Homo sapiens: one gene and its partners. The protein of the gene in region 3 interacts with the protein of the main gene of each other region in a biochemical or structural test. Each region holds a gene or a part of one and is shown on either strand. Other genes may lie near its edges. The genes, in order: JUP, PKP1 and DSG1.

Region 1 (7,107 bases), on a different chromosome or scaffold from region 3:
TCCTGAGTAGCCAGGATTACAGGCGTGTGCCACCACCCCCGGCTGATTTTTGTATTTTTAGTAGAGACAGGGTTTCACCATGTTGCGCAGGCTGGTCTTGATCTCCTGACCTCGTGATTCGCCCGCCCCGGCCTCCCAAAGTGCTGGGATTACAGGCGTGAGCCACCTCACCTGGCCCAAACCAAGCACTTTCATTAACTATTTTTACTTAATCCTTATGGCTGGCCAGGCTGGATGGCTCAGACCTGCAATCCCAGCACGTTAGGAGGCCCAGAAGGGTGGACTGCTTGATTGAGCCCAGGAGTTCCAGACCAGCCTGGGCAACATGGAGAAACCCTGTCTCTACAAAAAAATAGAAAAATTAGCCGGGCGTGGTGGTGCATGCCTGTGGTCCCAGCTACTGGGAATGTTGAGGTGGGAGGATTACCTGAGCCCAGGGAAGTCAAGGCTGCAGTGAGCTGTGTCACTGTATTCCAGCCTGGGCAACAGAGTGAGTCCCTGACTCAAAAAAAAAAAAAAAACAAAAAAAACGCGTATCATTATTCGCATTCTACAGAGGAGGAAATTGAAACTCAAGGAACTTAAGTAATTTCCCCAATGTTGTACAGCGAGACCCAAGCAGCACCAAGACTGACGTTTGGGTCCTCTGATTCCAAGCCCAGAACCCATCCTGCTGTATTGCCCCATGCAGCTCTGGAAAGGATTTTTTTTTTTTTTTTGAGATGGAGTCACGCTCTGCCACCCAGGCTGGAGTGCAGTGGCGCGATCTCGGCTCACTGTAACGTCTACCTCCTGGGTTCAAGCGATTCTCCTGTCTCAGCCTCCCGAGTAGCTGGGATTACAGGCATGCACCACCACACTAGGCTAATTTTTGTATTTTTAGTAGAGATGGGGTTTCACCATGTTGGTCAGGATGGTCTCGAACTCCTGACCTTCAGGAGATCCGCCCGCCTCAGCCTCCCAAAGTGCTGGGATTACAGGTGTGAGCGGAAAGGATTTTTCTGCACCCCCTTTTGAGAGCCTCTGCCTGACTGGGGAGAAGAGAATTCAGAAGGGCCCATGAAGGCATGTGTGAGTGGTGAATGTAGGGCAGGTTTTGTAGGTGGGGGTGATACCTGTCCTGGCCACCAGCCCACTTAAATCTCCCCAGTGGCTTGATTTTTAGTTTCCGGTGGAAGCGGCTTCTCCCCAAGGCCAGGGCTGTGGTGAGTGTTGGGGGGAGGTTGAGAGGGAAAGAGGAGGCAGGGGTCAAAGCTGTGCTGCCTCCTAGCTTGGGTTAGGTAGAACCATGGCTGTTCTGGGCTTGTTCATGTGTAGGAAGTGGGAGTTGCCTGCTTTGCTGGGGGCTGGGGCTATGCCAAGATAAAGGGGTGCTGCCCTGTGGGGATTGGCGAGAAACGAGAGTCCGATTTAGGCCTGGGCTAATGTCCTGCTGGAGTTGACGAGGCAGTGCTGCCAGGCTGCTCTTGATGGGGAACTGGCTGTCCTCTGCTCTGAAGCCCAAGAGACCTGAGATAGGCAGCTGCTGGGAGGGCTTTTCTGGTGATGGAGGTGGGGGTCATGTGTGCTGCCTGTCAGCCAGAGCCTTGGCCCTCTAGGGAGGAGCTGGTGTCAGATTGTTCTCCAGACCTGCCTGGTTCTGGTGTCTCTGCCAACTGGACATCTGACACCAGAATGGGCCTGGATTTGGGGTCTGGGAAATGGGTTCTCTTTATGTGATGGTGCAGCCGGAGTACTGAACCTGTCACTACCGCGCTTCTGGATTCCCTGAGGGCAGGCGGGGACCCCAGGCAACGGGATTATTGATCGTGGAGAAGGCTAATGGGACTTGAGACAGAGAAGAAAACAGAATGAACCCCATCCCACTGACTACTACAAAGAGGGCATGAGGTTGCAGTTTTTCCATCTCCCCCGAGGACTTGAGAGCTGCAGGCCCGATGCACTTACTGAAGGGACGCAGTCTAGACAGGAGGAGGGGCTTTCTGCCTGCTAAAGATGAAATCTTGAGTTGAGAAATAAGAGGGAGAGGTGGAGACTCAGCATTGACTCTTCTCTGATGAGGGCCATCCTGTGCGGCAGGGAGGCCAGACAGGAATTGCTGCCCTTTGGGGAGACTCCTCATTTGTATCTTTTGGGAGAAGAGCGACCTGGCAGTGAGAGGGAAAGGCATCTGTGAGCTGGTCCTGTGACCCCTGTGAAGAGGAAAAGCAAGCAGTGTGGCTGGGCAGGTCACCAGGGCTTGTGTTCCTGCAAGTGACACTGAGCGGCCTCTCCTGGGACATGGTTGAGTCTGGGGACATGGAATATCTTATTGTGAAGCGACTTCCTCTGCCAGGCCTGAAGGGCAAGCTCATGGACCACTCTCCTTTGCTCAGCCTCCTGGCATCTTGGCCTTTGGGGCCAGCAGAGCAGGAAGCTCAGCTTTCTTTTTCTCTTTCTTTCTTTCTTTTTTTTTTTTTGAGATGGAGTCTCTCACTCTGTCACCCAGACTGGAGTGTAGTGGCACAATCTTGGCTCACTGCAACCTCCATCTCCCGGGTTCAGGTGATTCTCCTGTCTCAGCCTCCCGCGTAGCTGGGACTACAAGCGCCTGCCAGTACGCCCAGCTAATTTTTTTTTTTTTTTTTTTTTGAGACGGAGTCTCACTCACTCTGTCGCCCAGGCTGGAGTGCAGTGGCACGATCTCCGCTCGCTGCAAGCTCCGCCCCCTGGGTTCACACCATTCTCCTGCCTTAGCCTCCCGAGTAGCTGGGACTACAGGCGCCCGCCACCACGCCTGGCTAATTTTTTTGTGTTTTTAGTAGAGACGGGGTTTCACTGTGTTTGCCAGGATGGTCTCGATCTCCTGACCTCATGATCCACCCGCCTCGGCCTCCCAAAGTGCTGGGATTACAGGCGTGAGCCACTGTGCCCGGCCTAATTTTTGTATTTTTAGTAGAGACGGGGTTTCACCATATTGGTCAGGCTGGTCTTGAACTCCTGACCTCAGGTGATCCACTCACCTTGGCCTCCCGACATGCTGGGATTATAAGCGTGAGCCACCGCTTTTGGCACTCAGCTTTCTTTCCTCCTCCCTTCTCCTCTTCTCTTTTCTTTCTTTTTTTTTTTTGGTTTGTTTTTTGAGATGGAGTCCTGCTCTGTCGCCCAGGCTGGAGTGCAGTAGTGCAGTCTTGGCTCACTGCAACCTCTGCCTCCTAGGTTCAAGCAATTCTCCTGCCTCATCCTCCTAAGTAGCTGGGACTACAGGCATGCGCCACCATGCCCAGCTAATTTTTGTATTTTTAGTAGAGATGGGGGTGTCACTATGTTGGCCAGGCTGGTCTTGAATTCCTGACCTCAAGTGATCCACCCACCTCAGCCTCCCAAAGTGCTGGGATTACAGGCGTGAGCCACTGCGCCCGGCCTTCTTTCCTTTTTTTGAGGTAGGGACTCGCTCTGTCCCTTAGGCTAGAGTGCAGTGGCGTGATCACAGCTCACTGCATCCTTGAATTCCTGGGTTCAAGCAATCCTCCCGCCCAGCCTCCCAAGTAGCTGGGTCCACAGGTGTGCACCACCATGCCCAGCTAATTTTTAAAGTTTTGTGTAGAGACAGGGTCTTGCTATGTTGCCCAGGCTGGTCTTGGACTCCTGAGCTCAAGCATTTGTCCCATCTCAGCCTCCCAAAGTGCTGGGATTATGGGCATGAGCCACCATGCCCAGCTGAAGCTCAGCTTTCTGTGTCTTTCCCTACCATGGAGACAGTAGCAGGGACCAGAGCAGAGTTGGGACAGGGGCTTGGCAATCAATAAGCTGCTTATTTAGGGGAGACTCCTCCTCTTCCTTGATTGAGAAGGTAATATCTGGCTGGGGCAGTGGCTTACACCTGTAATCCCAACCGCTCTGAAGGTTGAGGCAGGAGGATTGCTTGAGGCCGGGACTTTGAGACCAGCCTGCCAGCCTGTGCAACATAGCAAGACCCCATCTCTTAAAAAAAAAAAAAAAAATTAGCCAAGCATGGTGGCATGTGCACGTGGTCCTAGCTACTCGGGAGGCTGAGGCGGAAGGATTGCTTGAGCCCAGGAGTTCAAGGCTGCAGTGAGCCATGATTGTGCCACTATACTCCAGCTTGGGCAACAGAGCGAGACCTTGTCTCAAAAAAGAGAAAGAAAATAAAAAAAGTAATATCTGATCATTGTAAAAAAAACTGGGGGCCAGCCGCGGTGGCTCACGCCTGTAATCCCAGCACTTTGGGAGGCCGAGGCGGGCGCATCACGAGGTCAGGAGATCGAGACCATCCTGGCTAACATGGTGAAACCCCGTCTCTACTAAAAAATACAAAGAATTAGCTGGGCGTTGTGGCAGGCACCTGTAGTTCCAGCTACTGTGGAGGCTGAGGCAGGAGAATGGCGTGAACCCGGGAGGCGGAGCTTGCAGTGAGCCAAGATTGTGCCACTGCACTCCAGCCTGGGTGACATCTGTCTCAAAAAAAAAAAAAAAAAAAAATTGGGAAGTTTAGAAAAGTTTAAGAGAAAAGAAAAAAAATCGCCCATAATCCTAAAAAGCAACTTTCATTAAGGTCTCTTCCTCTTTTTTTTTTTTTGAGACGGAGTTTTGCTCTTGTTGCCCAGGCTGGAGTACAGTGGCACAATCTCAGCTCACTGCAACCTCTGCCTTCTGGTTTCAAGCGATTCTCCTGCCTCAGCCTCCTGAGTAGCTGGGATTACAGGCACCTGCCACCATGCCTGGCTAGTTTTTTGTATTTTTAGTAGAGACGGGGTTTCACCATGTTGGCCAGGCTGGTTTCAAACTCCAGACCTTGTGATCCACCCGCCTTGGCCTCCCAAAGTCCTGGGATTACAGGCATGAGCCACCACGCCCAGCCAAGTCTCTTCCTCTTTTCTTAGCATCCTTTTTTTCTTTTTTTTTGAGACGGAGTCTCGCTCTGTCACCCAGGCTGGAGTGCAGTGGCAGGATCTCGGCTCACTGCAAGCTCCGCCTCCTGGGTTCATGCCATTCTCCTGCCTCAGCCTCCCGAGTAGCTGGGACTACAGGCACCCGCTAACACGCCCGGCTAATTTTTTATATTTTTAGTAGAGATGAGGTTTCACCGTATTAGCCAGTATGGTCTCGATCTCCTGACCTCGTGATCCGCCCGCCTCGGCCTCCCAAAGTGCTGGGATTACAGGCATGAGCCACCGTGCTCGGCAACATCCTTTTGTTCTTTAGCCTTGATCTTGATGAGCTCATCCCCTGTATATAGTAACATTTTTTTTTTTTGAGATGGGGTCTCACTGTGTTGCCCAGGCTGGAGTGCAGATCTCAGCTCACTGCAACCTCCTCTTCCTGGGCTCAAGCGATCCTCCTACCTCAGCCTCCCAAGTAGCTGGGACTACAGGCACATGCCACCACGCCCGGCTAATTTTTGCATTTTTTTGTAGAGACAGGGTTTCGCCATGTTGCCCAGACTGGTCTGGAGCTCCTGAGCTCAAGGGGATTCACCTGCCTTGGCCTCCTAAAGTGCTGGGATTACAGGGGTGAGCCACTGCACCCTGCCTACAGTAACAGATTTTAGCCAAAACTTTATTCCAATCCTGGTTTTCCAGCATGTGTTGTACAATAAACAGATGGATCTTCCCAGGAGAGGGTTATATGTAGGGATCCTTGCAGAATCACACCCCAGGGAGTGGGCCTCAGTCAGCTGGGATCGGAGCTGCTGTTATTGAGAAGTGGGCCGCCCCTGGACCCCAGGCTGCCCAAGCCCCACTGGTGGTGGTTGGAGGCAGTGGAATGAGAGTACTTGTGTATTTTGCGTCACCAACACACGTCAACCTTTTGTTGTTGTTTCCTGGTGTGGGGTGAAGTGTTTTTCCATTCCCAGGAGTCCCGGTTTGGGGTCATCTGCCAGTTTGGGAATCTGCCCACGGGGGTCACCAGCAGGGAACGGAGCTCCAGCTGGAGCCCTCTCCAGGGGAGCATAGAGGTCCCTGGGTCGAGCCACTTGGCCGTGGCAAATTCCCTCTCCTACAAATCCCCTTCATTTTCCTACCCGGGTTTGTTTGCTTTGGGAAGGAGCCCAGAAGGAGGAAAATAAACAGCAGCTGGGTCGGCAGGCCTGAGCCTCCCCCAGGCCCCAGCTCATCCTCAGGCCACAGCCTGGGCTGCTCTCCAGACTGGAAGTGAGGGTTTTCCTCCGGAAGCCTAAGACCAGCTTGTCTGACAGCTCCTGCTTCAGTTCTGCCCTCTTGGAATGGACCAGCTTGCTGATGGAGACCACAGTGTCTGCCAGAGAACCTGTAGTCTGCAGGAGGTTCCGTCCTGGAGCTGCCAGCCAGAGGGGAGAGGCCTCCTTGGGCAGCCCCAGCCTGAGAGGGAAACAGGCCCTCAAGGGAAGCCATCATGTCCATCTCTCTGGACTTTCTAGAGTCTGTGTCTGTGCTTGGAACTGCTGGCCAGACCTCAGCAGGAGCCAGGGACAGAGTGGGGAAGGTGGGGGCTGGAGATCCTGCTGAGCCCAGCTTCCCCCTGGGACTGCTATGTGGGGAATGTTCACGCCTGGCTGTGCAGCTGCCCCTGGCTGCAGGAAGCAGCATGGACTGGGCATAGGGCAGCCAGTGTCTCCACCTGGCGTGAGCGAAGTTCCACTCCCCTTCTCCTCAGCCATGTTCCCTTGACCTCCCCAGGGCCTGGGAGGCAGCTCCCTACCTAGTCCCCATCTCAGGGGTCAGAGAAAGCAGCCAGGGCTCCCCCAGACAGACTGCCATCCACCTTGCCCGACAGGTCTCTGTGCCAGCCCTCGCCTTTTTAAATTTTTATTATTTTTCTTTTTTTTTGAGACAGAGTCTCGCACTGTATCCCTGGCTGGAATGCAATTGGTGCGATCTCGGCTCACTGCAACCTCCGCCTCCCAGGTTCAAGTGATTCGCCTGCCTCAGCCTCCCGAGTAGCTGGGATTACAGGTGCCCACCACCACGCCTGGCTAATTTTTTGTATTTTTAGTAGAGATGGGGTTTCACTATGTTGGCCAGGCTGGTCTCAAACTCCTGACCTTGTGATCCACCCACCTTGGCCTCCCAATATGCTGGGATTACAGGCGTGAGCCACCGCGCCTGGCCCCCTCACCTTTTTGTT
Region 2 (7,710 bases), on a different chromosome or scaffold from region 3:
CCTGCCTGGTCTCCCTGGTCTGTCTGTTCTGAAGACATGCCAGGTTCATGGCTTGTACACTCACCATTTCCTCTGCCCAGAGCCCTTTCCCTCACTCCTGAGATGGGCAGCTGCCTCTCATGCTTCAAGTCTCAGCCTGTCACAGTCTGGTCACCATGGCTAAAGCTGTCCCTCTCTGCAGCCTCTAAGCCGCTCATTGTTTCCTTCATAGCATTTAATATAATTTGCAATCATTTACAGATCGACTCTTTGTCTATGTCTTTAGAACATATGCCCCATGAGAGCAAGATCTGGTCTTTTTCATCGTTGTATCCCCAGGGTTGACATGGTGATACCAGCCCCTTTAGGCACTCGGTACGTATTTAAGTGACTGACTGACAGTGCTCCACACAGAGGGAACAGCAAATATGCAAAGGTAAGGGGCAGGTGGCTGCATGGGGTGAGTGCTAGGATGAAAACAAAATAATGCAGGAGAAAAGACAGAGGCGATTTAGAGACTAGGGAGGGGGCAGTGCGAGTTCATCAGGGAAGGTTATAAGATTCCTGAGTTGAGCAGCCATTGAGGAGTCTGCTAACTGGCCAAAGGATGTCATCCAGAAAAGCTTTCACAATAGGGAGCTGGCCCCGTGGCCGCTGTCCAGGAAGTTCAGTTGCAGACGGACTGGGCTGAATAAGATGGGGCCACCCAGCAAGCCCAGGGATCCAGGAAGAAAACCTACCTCTTCCACGCTCCTGCGGTGTTTGCGTCAGTGAGGGGCTCAGCTAGAGGTGGTCCCCTCACCTGGGGGGCTGGAAACTGAGAAGGGAGAAGATTCAGCCCAGACACTCTTAGAAGCAGCAGGAGCCCCAGAGACCTCCTCTCAGCCTTCCTTGGGATAGCCCCCACCCACTCCTGGCCCAGCCTTCTCCTTCTCTCCTGTAGAAAATAAGCTCTAGGCCAGGCACAGTGGCTCATGCCTGTAATTCCATCACTCTGGGAGGCCGAGGTGGGTGGATCACTTGAGTTCAAGAGTTTGAGAACAGCCTGACCAACATGGTGAAAGCCTGTCTCTACTGAAAATACAAAAATCAGCCTGGCATGGTGGTGCGCACCTGTAATCCCAGCTACTCAGGAGGCTGAGGCAGGAGAATTGCTTGAACCCGGGAGGCAGAGGTTACAGTGAGTCAAGACACACCACTGCACAGAGTGAGAGTGACAGAGTGTAAATTCTGTAAGAGCAGGAACTTTGTCTTCCTCACCATTGTATCCTTAGTACCTGGGACAAGGTCTGTCACATAGCAGATGCTCAGTCAATACTTGTTGAGTAAATGAACTCATATTTCACTTTTTAATGAACATAGAGATGACAGGATGTGAAGTCTGGGAGCCAGAATGTTGAAAGGGAAATCTGGGTCACACTTAATGCTCTAAGGAGGCAGCAAAGAGAATTAGAAGCCCGTTCATACTCATTCCTTTGAGGATGAAAATATACTCATCTTATTTCAGAATCAAGTCAAAATTAACTTCTTTCAGGATGCTTCCCCCTGATCACCCCCAACACCTTCCAAGCCAAAATTAACCCATATCCATTAGAATTTTAACATCTAAATATATGTTCTGACAGTCACCTGAAAGCATGCCATTTCAGAGCCAGGATCATGTGACTGTGCCTCCTTGACATCTTTTCTTCACTTTAGGAGTGTTAGCCTCCTTGCTGGTTGATTTCTGAGACAGGCCCCACATAGGGTGGGGCTCAGGCAGGCAGAAGAGAGAGAGAGATTATGGAAATAGCATTGGCCTGCTGGCTCAAAACCATATACCTGAGCCCCAAACCAATCCTCCCAGCCTGAGTATATCTCCCTCACCGTGGCCCAGAATGTGTAACCTGACTTCTCTTTCCTCTCCTCCTCTGTCAGAAGGGCCTGATTCAAGATGTCCTGCCCTACAAATCCCCACAATCGACAGAATTATAGAATGTTGGGGCTAGAGTGGAGTTTAGGAGCCACGAAGTTTACCCGCTCTCTTTGTAGATTGGTGCAAGGGACGGAGGAAGGCACTTGTCTAACATGAAGCTAGTTAGTGACACAACTAGATCAGGAACCCAGCTGGCCTGACTTTCGTGCCCTGTGATGGGAATGGATGCTGTTAAAATACCTATCCAGAGAAGGATCTGCTTGTCACAGAGAAATCTCGAGGCGGCAGCCTGGCACTGCCACTGAGTGTCCAGCTCTGGATTGCAGTTGCCTTGTCTGCCTGTTGCCAGCTGGGTGGCCTCATGGAACTTCAGTTACCTCATCTGAAAAAGAAGGGTGATGGTGCCCACCTCATAGGGTCATTGTAAGGATTTAAATGATGTGGTTCGTGTACAGGGCTCAGAACAATGCCTGGTTGGTAGGCATGGTGTTTGGAGGAGCATAGTAAATGCTATTGCTATCAATATGTCAAAATAATGTCAATATTAACATAGTAGAGAAGTAGCTAGAAAAACTGAACTTCATACCTGGAAACAATTTTAAAGATAATCAGTTCTGCTTCCACGGACTTGCCTTTTATAGGAAGATGAGCTACTCTAATCCCCTCCTTCAGGGCCCTTCTATATCCTAGAATAGGAAAATTATCGTTATTTAAAGATGTAATTAACATTTATTATGGCTAGCATATTAGGTTTTAGATAGGCCAAATGTGTGATACAATAGAATTGTATTTTTATATGCTGCTGTGTATACTTTACAGTACATTGGGGCCCTTATATAATCGGTGTGCACTGTACTTTAATGTCCATTTTATAGGACTTTTATAAGGGAAGCTGGATGATGTGGTGGAATGAGCACTGTGCCAGGAGTCACAAGGCCTGGTTAGGATGCAGGCTTTGCCACATATTAACTGGGGCATTGCAAGCAAGCTACCTCCTCTCCTAATCAGTGAAATGCAGTGCTTGGCTGGATGAAGTCCAAGGCTCTGTCCAGTCCTGGCGGTCTATGGCTAGAGGCAGAATCTTACAATATGAAGTGATAATAGAGGTTTACAGGTATTTTGTACACATCTATGACATATTTTTTATCACATCTCTGGTTTACTTGAGGTTAAGTTCTTAGGAACAGCGCCCTCAATAATAAAACTGTTTCTATTGGAAACTATAATCTGCTTTACAATAATCTGCTCTGCAAATTGCTACTAGGAATACCTTCCTTGGGAAAGCTGGGGCTCCCCGCATGTAACACCCACATCTCAGGAGTTGCGTGAGTGACCTTCATGTACATGGTCCCTGAGACAGTCATTCAGTCTTCTTGATCCTTCCTCGACATAAAATTCCCAAAAAGAATAGATTTCTGATTGTCCTTTCCTCTGTAGATTAGAAGAGCAAACTAAAAGTAAAATATGTGAGCTGTGAGCGGCAGCCTCAAATGACAGCAAGAGTGACGGCTGTGATAGTGTCACACACTGGTGGAGGCCCCAAAACTAAGAAACTGACCGGACAGCACGACTACACAGTTCAGTAATGGATGTCCAGAATGAGAAACCCAGGGCATCAAGAAGTACAGCAAATATGTTCAGTGTTGTTTGCTTTAGGAGGCAAACAGAATGCGATACCTTTTAGAAAGATTTCCATCAAAGTAAATACTTAAAAAAAAAAAAAAACACTCAGCTCCTGTTACACACCAAATTCACTGATGTGGGCTCCCTCCACGCCTGGAGAGGATGCTACATGAATAAAGCTTCACTGCACATGTGTCCCCAGGGGTGAGTGTATATAGGGGAATGCACACAGTGGTCCCAGAATAATAAGTCCAGAGTGAAATTTCAGGGTAAAGCAGCTTTTCAATTTTTCAGTGAGGATCTGGTTAGGATCCGAGTTAGATTTAATTTACCTTAAATTAACTAGCATTCACGTATTCACCTATTTAAAATATTTTTTATTAAGCGCCTAATATTATGTGTGCCAGGCATTGTTTTAGAGGTTATAGTGGAGTTTCAGAGAGGATCCGCTGTTCACGTGGTGTTTTACCGGGGTATACTCATGAACAACAAATAACCACCGGTTTTACCAAGGCATACCCACTGTGTGGTCTGATATCCCAAGTCTGCTCCTTGATGTGGCCTTACTGCCCCTACCCCACTTTCTTCAGAGGAAGCTCCTTTAGAGTAGACTGGGTTACCCCCATAAGATGGAGCACTCCTTTGGAGCAAGAGCTATGGTTCTGCCATCAGCCCGGGAGCCTCCACCGCCGGGGTTGGTCTCTGCTATGACCTCAGTACAGAGGGAGATGGACGCCTGGCTCTCCTGGGCAGCCTGGTCAAGAAAGACTCCTTTCTTTCCTAGAGAGAGGTCTCCCTCGGTTCCTGAGCTGAGCACATGCTTTCTCAGTGAGCCGGCAGAACAGGACAGAGGGGCGTCTCCCTGGGGCCTCAAGGCTTGCGACGTTTCTTGCTCATGGGGAGAGGGAAGGGAGAGAAAAAAAAGAGCGAGCAGGAAGGCGCCCAGCGTCCCACACAGGGGACTCGCAGCCCTGCCCCCAAGAGCGCTGGCTCCGCAGCAGCAGTGCCCTGCAGCTCCGCGTCTGAGCAGCAGCAGCGCGCGGCCCGGTGGAGTGGGTGGTGCAGGGCAGGGGTGGTATATCCTGTCTGACGGAGGGCGGGCCTCGCCAGTGCCAGAGAGGGACGAACCAGGGTGGAAGCGCCAGGAGCAGCTGCAGGGAGCCCTCACGCGGACCACGCACTCTATGGCCGTAGGGAGCCGCTGAGAGCGAGAAGAGCACGCTCCTGCCCGCCCGCTGCACCGCACCTCGCCTCGCCTCTCTGCTCTCCTAGGCCCCGGCCGCGCGCCACCCGCCTCCCGCCACCATGAACCACTCGCCGCTCAAGACCGCCTTGGCGTACGAATGCTTCCAGGACCAGGACAACTCCACGTTGGCTTTGCCGTCGGACCAAAAGATGAAAACAGGCACGTCTGGCAGGCAGCGCGTGCAGGAGCAGGTGATGATGACCGTCAAGCGGCAGAAGTCCAAGTCTTCCCAGTCGTCCACCCTGAGCCACTCCAATCGAGGTAAAGGCTCGGCCCCCGCGTGGTCCGTGCGCCCCTTTCCAGAGCACCCTGGCCCAGTGGCGGGGACCAAGAGACGCACGCATCCCCGGGGATGAGGGGAGGCGAGGGGCTGCCGGCCCCAGGCAGGGTCTACGCACCTAGTGCGAGCAGCCGAGCTCCCAGCCGGTTCTGAGCTGGTGTAAACGCGACCCGAGGCTGGCTCGACGGCCCCGCGAGCTCGATGGCGCGCTAGTGGGCAAGGATGGGTGATTCACCGGGACACAGCCAGGAGCATGTCCCAGCGTGCCAGGAGGTTGAGGATCCCCCGCGAGCGGTTCTCCTGTCCCTGAGCCCTGGGTCTGGACGGCTTTCTCTTTCGGATGCTGCTCTAGGGATCTGCCCTGCATCCTGTCTGGCCCCGGCTGTCCTGGGGCCCATGGTCCCCGCGCTCGCAAACGGTTGTGGGCCACCCTTCACCCTTCCTGGGCTTGATCTCCTGGCCTTCAGCTGGAGGCCGATGCCCAGCGTCCAGGCCAAGGGGAACCCCAGTCCCTGTGGGGCCGCGCATGAGTATCCGCGAGCGGGGTGAGGGAGTCGCTGAGACAGGAGTGCAGCTCAGGAGAGGCGCTGCGGGACGGGAAAGTGGCACAGGGAGCAGGGACGAGGGCCTGGAACTCCAGGGCACTTTATCGAGAGCCTCCTGAAAGAGGCTAGCCTAGTTGGAAGGCCGCCCCAGGGCCAGTGGGTCCCTTGACGACAGGGAAGGGGGTCAGGGATGCTTTCTTTCCCGAATAGCCAATGCAGAAATCCTCTTTCCCACTGGATTCTTCTTACCCCACCCAGCTTAGGTAGAAACAAGTGTCTCATGGGGAGAGTACGGAATGGCAGGTTGGAAATCCCCCCGGGCCCCAGGGAGACCTCCAGCTGAACCCTCACGGGCACTTTTCCAAGCTGGATCCCGGGCCTGGCACCCCCTCCTCCAGCCTCTGAGAGGCCAGATCCCATGACTGGGGGAACCTGGGAGAAAGGGGCAGCACCCAGGAAACTCAAGGAGGAAGGGGCAGTACCTGACAGGGGAGAGCTTATAGACCAAGTAAACACTTTGATACAAAGGATGCCTGGTAAGAATTACACACAAGTGAGCAAAGATTCCACTTGTTTATTTATTTACTTATTTTATTTAGCTAAGTTTAGTAAAATGCTAATAAGACTTTACCCATTACCAAACAGTACAGGTCAACCAAGACTTATGTATTAAGACAGGCCTTAGGAGAGAGTGAGGGGCAGGGGGTAATAAGGTGGAAGGAGACAAAAGAAACCGACCCTGGCCCTTCCACCACACACACACACACACACACACACACACACACACACACACACACCTCACACTTCCTTCTACCTGTGGCTTCTGTCCCCCCACCTACTCCCTAGCCCCCATTCCTGAGTGGCCCCTTGTAGAGCCGAGGGAAGGAAAATGGCCGGCAGAGGACTTCCTGGGCCCCAGACCTAAAGGCCTTTGCTTCTCTGTGTGCTCTTTGCCTTTGTGTGGGCTCCAGGCTCCTCTCGTCACATTTCCACTCAAGATCATGCCACCTCCAGAGCACTTGCCTCCTTCCCTTTTATTTGGTGCCTTGGTAGGTGCCTCCTAGCCTCTTTAGAATTAGGTTTGGAATAACAAAGTGCCCCCATTTCTGGCTACAGCCCAGAGCACAGCTCAACCTACTCTCCTCTCTGCACAAGACTTGGCTGTCCCCTTCCCACTCCCACTCCATCCCAGCCTGAGCTCTTGGCTCACAACTCCAGAAAACTCAAACCGGCCCTGGGTGCCCCAAGGACCCCTTTTTCCTCCTACCTATCGGGATATTGGCTGAGTGTCTGTCAGCAAGAAGTGCACTTTCTGGGCTTGGTCTTTGTGGGGAACTTCTATCTGATAAGGTCTCCTTTGTTCCCTCTTTGTTTTTCCTCCCAAGGTCCCCCAGGGGGCTTCACTGGGGGAGGGTTGATGCTGATGGCTACCTCTCCAGAAACTCCAAGGTCTAGCCCTGTGGGCGTGTCCCCTCTACCCTCAGACTCTGCGGAGGTTCCTAAAGGAGGCTGCAGAGGCATCCTTGCTGGAAGAGGCGGTTTGGTCACTTGGAGCTGGTGTTTCTGGTTTATCTGGCTTAGTTTTCATCAGATTTCCTTGTCTTCTCCATCAGAAACACCCAAACGTCCCCTATTTGCTCTGCGGCCACCTCTACTCACTCTGCTCCCTCTTTCTTATGCTGGTTTACCTGTCAGGAGCCTGCTTTGGTTCCTGGAATGGAATGAGCTGGTAGCTGTGGAAGGACCATGCCCCAGGCGTTTTCCCTCGCCCCCTGGACAGATTCAGGTTCTTGTTTAGTCTCTTCCAAGAGCAGAGTCAGTTTACCTAGGGTCTTCTTGAGCCCCTTGAATCCCATCCAAAGTTTCCCTAGTTAAGAAGGGCCAACCATACCCCACAGGTTGCCTGGAAGAGTAGCCACTGCTCCTTGTACCCCAGGAAGGACAGTCAGGACCAGCCATCCTTGGTCCTGTGATAGAAGTGGCTTCTCAGTTCCTCTCCACTAGTGCTCTTTTCTCTCTTGTCACTGAGGGAGTATTGAGCCACTGAGGACTGGAGGAAGGGCCCCTGGAGCCTGTCACAAAATGCCTGTCTGCACTCATGCTCTCCCTGAAATGCCACAGA
Region 3 (7,107 bases):
CCAACCCTCTGACACCTGATAAACTAACTCCACAGTTTGAACCGAACTGAAATTCTGTAAAATATGAGCAGGAGTTTTTAAGAGTACTTTCATCACTCAGGCTAAAATACACAGAAAATAATACACATTTCATTACATAGTTCCTAAACTTACTTGAAGACATCTTAAGTCCCCAAAATTGTGTTCACAGATGCCTAAAGCAAGAGAAGAACTAACAAATTAGTACAGACCAAACAGAAGACAAGCAAAAGAGAGAGCTCTTTGTGCTTTCTTGAGCGTGTATTATAGTGATATGTAGTATAGAGATCAGTGTTTCAGTAAAATATTTTGTAGAAAATGGAAGGAATATTTCTGTTCACGTATTCAGTGAAACTTACAAATTGCATTCAAGTGTCATCATTAACAGTTATATGGTGTTCATAAAAGCTTTATTATTTCGCTGTAGATTTAGGATTAGCATCTTCTATCACCTTTACAGAAACAAGGAGTACACATTTATCATCGCTCAATTGGTTTGAGTTGCCACAAAGTAAAAACATTTTGTCATCCCTGTTTTAGGAAAAGAGTAGAAACTAAAGCACTGAAGAATGCTGTCTTAAATCTGAAAGGCTGACCCTAGAATAAGATTCACTTATTTAACAAATCTCATCAATCTAGAAAATTATCTTATCTATACCCAGAGCACTTAATTTCTGGTAACTCTTTCTCCACAACACATTCATCAAAGACCTGGTTGCTGAGTATCCCTGTGTCCTAATAGACATTGCCTAACATATCAGCAGGAAGCCTGCTGTGCCAGGCACCGCAATTAGATTTATAATGCTCCCTCATCTCAGGGAACACCCTTGCCCAGTGCTGGGTCATGCCACCCTTGCTGATTATGCTTGATATGCAAATTCCTTCAATAGACTTAGACAGATCAAATTTTTTTAAATGCCATTGGCTGCTGATCCATGCTCTTAATTGGTCTATGAGAATAGGCCACAGTTTTTCATACTCGTCTAATGAGAAATCATATCTCTACAAATTAATGGTTGCCTGTTGCTCTCAAAACTGCAAGACTGTAAGTTATTTGAAGGCAGGTTCTGTGTCTGATTTGCCTTTGTATCCCTTATGGTGCCTTGCACCAGTGCAAGATTGCTCAAAAGATGTCTAATCACACACAGCAGAGGTACCACAAGGAAGTTTCTGGATAGTTTATACAGCTCTTCCCCCACACACTCCAAAAAATTATCACGCTATTAAACATAGAAATAATAATACTGGATTTCCCCAACATTTTAATGGTGTAGTATTAAATTCATTTTACATTTCACCTGAGACTTACTATAATATTTTCAGGCCTTTAAAAGTCTTAATCTAGTGTTGGATCCACATAATACACATTCAGTATGTACTTGTAAAATACACAAACGAAAAGAATAAATTAGAGAATTCAACCCATTAAGGTGCTGTCAACCTCAGACTGATACCCTTTGTCAGAGCAGTACAAAGGAAAGATAAGAGGAGGTTTTTAAATAAAGCAAATTGTGATATTTTAGCTTTGTTTCAAGTGCATCCTTGCGATGTATATAAAAGTTAACAATTACATTAGAATTGAATGCTTAACAAAAACGTAACAATTATGTTAGAATTCAACGCTTAGCAAAAAGTGACTTGGAAGACCATCTCACAATTATTAAATGCAAGAGATTTTTTAAATAAAAATAGCTTGTTACTCTCAAACCCATTTTTATTATGTGCAAGGAAGCATGAACTTCAATATTAAAAAGGAAAACATTAAAAATTACTGTAATTGGGGATTTATTAAAATTAGCCTGTGATTTTGTCTCCTGTAGCTTTTAAAAAGTACATAAATGGATTGGTTCCTAAAACAGAAATGAAGGGGAAACTCATTGAGGATGTATTTCAGGTGAATTATTTACTGTTTTCATAGAATTTTAGGACTAGAGGGGACTTTTAGTCTCATATACAGCTGAGGAAACTGAGCACAGATTGATTTAATGACTTACCCCAAAGTCCCTATCCACTGGGCAAAACAGCTGAGATATACTCAGTCAGCCTGATAACCTCTGTGTTCATCTCTAGGTAAATCTCCATCACAGCCTCCATAGCACAGACTCCAAACTCATTTGGGAATCCAAACTTCTCCCCTAATTGTCAGAAAATAACCTCACCCTTACTCCAGGGACAAGGTCTAGGTCATTTAGGAGAGTGTCCTCCAATTTCCCTTCCCCAGTTTATTGATTTTAATCTCCATCCACCTCACCCTTACTCCAGGGACAAAGTCTAGGTCATTTAGTACAATGTCTTCCAATTTCCCTTTCCTAATTGATCGATTTTAATCTCTATCTTTCCTTGCCTTTGTCTTTGAGGTCCTTTCTTTTTCTGCCCATTCTCTCCTGCTCTCCCTATCACAACACTTCTATGAGAATCTTCCTGCTGAACATCTCTTCTTTTAAATCAAAATCTCCTCCTAGCTTCTATCTTAACTTTCAAAAATCCTTAGGTTACCCTCTCTCAAAAAAAAATGCTACTATCTTGTCCCTCTGTTCCCTTTTATCACCAATGTCTTGAAAAAGTGACCATCTTTATGTCCTCCTCTCCTCCTCTCATTTCCTAATCCCTTGCTGTCAAGCAAGTGCATGTTCCATCCAGCTAAAAATATTCTCTTGAAGGTCCCTCAGAACCTCAGGATTTCCTCAGAATTCACTCTGCTCAACTTTTTTACCTCATCTCTTTCAACCCCATCTGTCTTTCCGTTTTCCTTTTCCTCTGACCTCCATTATAATGCATTATATTTTCCTATTGTTTCTTTCGCCATTCCTTCTCTCTTTCGCCACTCCTTCTCTCCTTCCTTTTTTTTTTTTTTTTTTTTTTCTTTTTTTGAGACAAAGTCTTGCTCTGTCCCCAGGAGTGCAGTGGTGCAATCTCGGCTCACTGCAACCTCCGCCTCCTGGGTTCCATTGATTCTCCTGCCTCAGCCTCCCAAGTAGCTGGGACTACAGGCACGCACCACGACGCCCAGCTAATTTTTGTATTTTTAGTGGAGACGGGGTTTCACCATGTTGGCCAGGATGTTCTCAGTCTCCTGACCTCGTGATCCACCCGCCTCGGCCTCCCAAAGTGCTGGGATTACAGGCGTGAGCCACAGCGCCCGGCCCTCTCCTTCCTTTTTTTTTTTTTTGTTTGTTTGTTGTCGTTGTTCCTAGTTCTATAAATGTAGGAACTCTTCTAGTTTTATCCTCAATTGCAGGCTGATTCTTGACTGTATCCTCTACTTTGGAAATTTCAAATTCTCACGATTTCAACTATCCTGCCTGAGCAGATCTACCTCAAATCTACATATCCAGCTTGAACTTTTGCTCAAGTTTTGATCCATGTTTCCAATTGCTGATCATCTTCACCCAGGCATTATCTGGCATCTCAAACTCAATGTGTTCTAATCTGCTAAATTCTATTACTGTCTTGTTCCCAATCCCACAGTTTAAAACTGCCATCCCCTGAGCTTCCTCCCTCTCTCGAACACCCCCATCCCATTTGTTCTCAAGCCCTGCCAATGCTATGCTGCAGTATCCCTTGATCTTTCCCCATCCATTCCCTCTGTCTCTGCTCCAGCGTACCTCCTTCTCACCTCCAGTCTGCTTTGATACAGAGACCCTCAACTGCTCACCGTCTGTAATCACTGCCTCTTCCCACTAGTCCTACCAACTGTTGTCAGAGTTAGCTTTAAAACCACAATTTTATCATGCTCTTCTCACATCTAAATACTTCAATATTTTCCTACTGCACACAGGCATTTAATATTACAGCTGGAAAGTTACCTGTATAAAATTTAGTCTACTCTTGTCATTTTACAAGTGAGAAAACTAAAGTTCAGAGAATTGGGGAAATACGTTGAAGATTTTCCAACTCTATCAAGAGTCAGATTTCACTATTTTGCCTTTGAAAGTCCAAGAGTGACTTTGTATCAGAGTTTATTCTAGACTCTGAGCAACAGAAAATAAGCTTACACCAACCCACCACATTTTTAAGCAGACTTGGCGGTTTTTAGATTACAAATCCAGTTGAGAGTCTGACTGTATGGTGAAAGCTACTTGGTCTTCTGCCCAAATTGTCTCTCATGGGAAAAAGAGTGACCCAGCTTCATAAAGCTGGAAAGATTTCTTAGTCATCTGCATAGCTTTCCAAAACAAACAGCAAGCACTGGCGCTCCAATGCAGTAAGGGAAGCGCAATAACAGATAACAGATCCATGCACAATTCTGTAGCTATGAAGAAATGGCTTTCAAACACACAAATAAGGTATGCCCATCTCCCATCCCACACTCACAAACAAGAGAGAGGGAAAAGTGTTCATAAATTCACAGGCAGCAAGGAGCATGCATTTACATGAACACCATTTCATCATTTCAGTTCTGCACCCAAGATGGGCTCTACAGATAACATTTCAGTTACATGTTTTAAAATTTGGGCCATTTACTTTTCTTTTTTTTTTCTTCATGCTGTATTCCTATTGTCGTATGTAAATATCACCAATCACAAGGATAATAGGTTAGTTTAAAATCAGAATTTTTTGAGTTCTTGAAGTTGCAATATAAATTCTTTGTAGCATGCTTTTCTTAGTAGTAATTTACTTGAGGGAATAGGCTATCTCATATTTTATTGTAAAACCCACAGCTCAAGTGAAAATTTATGCTAAATTGTATTGAATTATATTTAGCCATAGGTTAATATCCAAGACTCAATTTCCTCATCTGTAAAATGGAGATAGTATTAGTGGTGACCACATGTATTTGTTGTAAAGATTAAGTGCATAGATTTACATAAATACATAACCTAATACCTAGCTATTATTTAACAAATTATAAGAGTAATAACAATCATAATTATTAATATTAGATACACAATGGATATGTAATTCTCATAATAAAAACATTATCTTTTTATACTTCTCATATTGATCATAAATACTTATTTTCTGAATTATCTATTGTGGCAATTTTTTTAAAGTAGATACTTAGAGACATTAAGTTCATATTTTCTTTAATGCTACAATTAAAATTAACTATAAAAAGAACTTTTTTATATTTTTAAATTACTACTGTTAGTATTTTTAAATGTAAACTATAATTTTCTTATATCAGTTATACAAATAAAGTTTTCATACTTTGCAATTCTGAATAAATTCAATTAAAAGTTAAAAATTTCTTATTTAGGGAGAAATACAAGTACAAAATAATAGTAATAAAAAGAAGAGTAAATTGAAAGGTAAAAACAAAAATTCTTAGCATCATCATCAGACCCAAGACATAAACCAAATCCACCTGCTATTTGGCTGATAAAATAATTTTAATGACTCACAAGCCTATGGTTTCATGTTGTTTTTAAAGTAACTGGATAATATAAATTTTAAAGCATTTAATTAAAAAATAACTAGTGTGATTATCTTATTTTTTACAGGTGGTGGTAGAAGTTAACAGTGAATTCCGAATCCAGGTAATATATAACAAATCCATTTTTCCAAATTTTTAAACAAGAAAATAATTTGAGAATAACAATATGTTTTCTGAAGAAAATGTATTCTCATAAGTCAAGTTCATATAATGCTAAAATTAATAGATTACCAAAATTACCAATTTTCCCAATTAAACATCCTCTATTTCTGAGATTATAACCTCTTCCAAAAATCTCAGTGGAATTTGAATTACGAATTCAAATTAATATATACCATTTCTTTATTGCTGTCATTTAAGGTAAGAGATTATAACACTAAAAATGGCACCATCAAATGGCATTCAATCCGAAGGCAGAAACGTGAATGGATCAAGTTCGCAGCAGCCTGTCGTGAAGGTGAAGACAACTCAAAGAGGAACCCAATCGCCAAAGTAGGTATCAACTCCAAAGCATAACATTGAAAATCAGAATGGATAAAGTTTCAAAAGAAACTGTCTGCTAAATATTTCATGAACATGTCTCACCGAGAAGCTACGATACAGAACAGAACTATAGTCACCTAGATGATGAAAACTGAAACTCATAAGGAGAAATTAAGAAATGCAGGTGCTCAGAGAAACAGGCAAACGTTGACTCACCTCATTGGTGAAATGCATACACATGATCATGTGTTATCCCAAACTCCAGATGAAAAAAGATCATTATTTTAATAAAGAATTTGGCTTTCAGCACATTCAAAGGAATTACTTCAATGTGTGCTCTTTTTGCCTCACAATGTATTAGAATTGAATTCCTACTTTTTTGTTTGTTTATTAACATTCACAAGGTGCCCTCTCTCATACCCCTTTTCTATTCATTTTTCCATATCTTCCTTTCTACATACACACACACTCAGAAACACCCCCCACAAATTCATGAACATACAGATGTACACGTCCACAGATACACACACGAATATACACATTCATCCACACAGACACTCACAAATACTCCCCACTAGGATTTGTTTACAGCCAAACAATATTTTATTTCAAAGAAAGAGTTCTGGTTTCTATAACCATTTATTCGCGTGGTCTCCTTCCTTTTCTGCTAATACACCCTTCCCATTTTCAGAATTCAGAGCTTCCACTCAAACCCAGATAACTCTTGTCACCTAAATAAATCTACTTTCTTCGAAAACTTTACATTTAAAACAAATTGAAGATTAAAGTTGCATGATGACAACATTGATAAACTCCTTAAGAGGGCAAAGAGTTTCCTTCTGTAGCTCCAGTGCAAGCACAGACCCTGCAAATAATACAAGATCAAATTTTAACTGTTGAATGAATGAAGTCATGCATGATGATTGCATAGACTTAGATATAGTAGGGTGATATTTCGCATTTTTTCATGTTTCATAGAAGCAGAAACCGAATTTCTTTGATTACATTGTCAGTTACCATTGAAAATATTAGAGCTGTAATTGTTACTCTTATCTAGGAAAATAATCTCCATTGACAACATTTCCTAAATAACAAGGTCATCACATGCAACAACTCTCAAGAAAGCTGTCGTATATCAAATATAGAACTCTATTTGCTCCCTCTAATATTTTTACTTGTGTTCCTTCTGCAGATTCACTCAGATTGTGCTGCAAACCAGCAAGTTACAT

The links.
Region 1: the proteins of DSG1 (region 3) and JUP form a complex in vitro, tested with the Homo sapiens proteins (2 studies listed by BioGRID and IntAct).
Region 2: the proteins of DSG1 (region 3) and PKP1 form a complex in vitro, tested with the Homo sapiens proteins (2 studies listed by BioGRID and IntAct).

Annotation. Positions count from the first base shown.
Region 1 is NC_000017.11:41,776,709-41,783,815, reverse strand, and holds part of JUP (junction plakoglobin), read left to right. Parts: intron 1-7,107. UniProt on the Homo sapiens protein: Common junctional plaque protein. The membrane-associated plaques are architectural elements in an important strategic position to influence the arrangement and function of both the cytoskeleton and the cells within the tissue.
Region 2 is NC_000001.11:201,278,881-201,286,590, forward strand, and holds the start of PKP1 (plakophilin-1), read left to right. Parts: upstream 1-4,625; 5' UTR 4,626-4,822; coding exon 4,823-5,024; intron 5,025-7,710. UniProt on the Homo sapiens protein: A component of desmosome cell-cell junctions which are required for positive regulation of cellular adhesion.
Region 3 is NC_000018.10:31,321,119-31,328,225, forward strand, and holds part of DSG1 (desmoglein-1 preproprotein), read left to right. Parts: intron 1-5,462; coding exon 5,463-5,498; intron 5,499-5,755; coding exon 5,756-5,887; intron 5,888-7,070; coding exon 7,071-7,107. UniProt on the Homo sapiens protein: Component of intercellular desmosome junctions. Involved in the interaction of plaque proteins and intermediate filaments mediating cell-cell adhesion.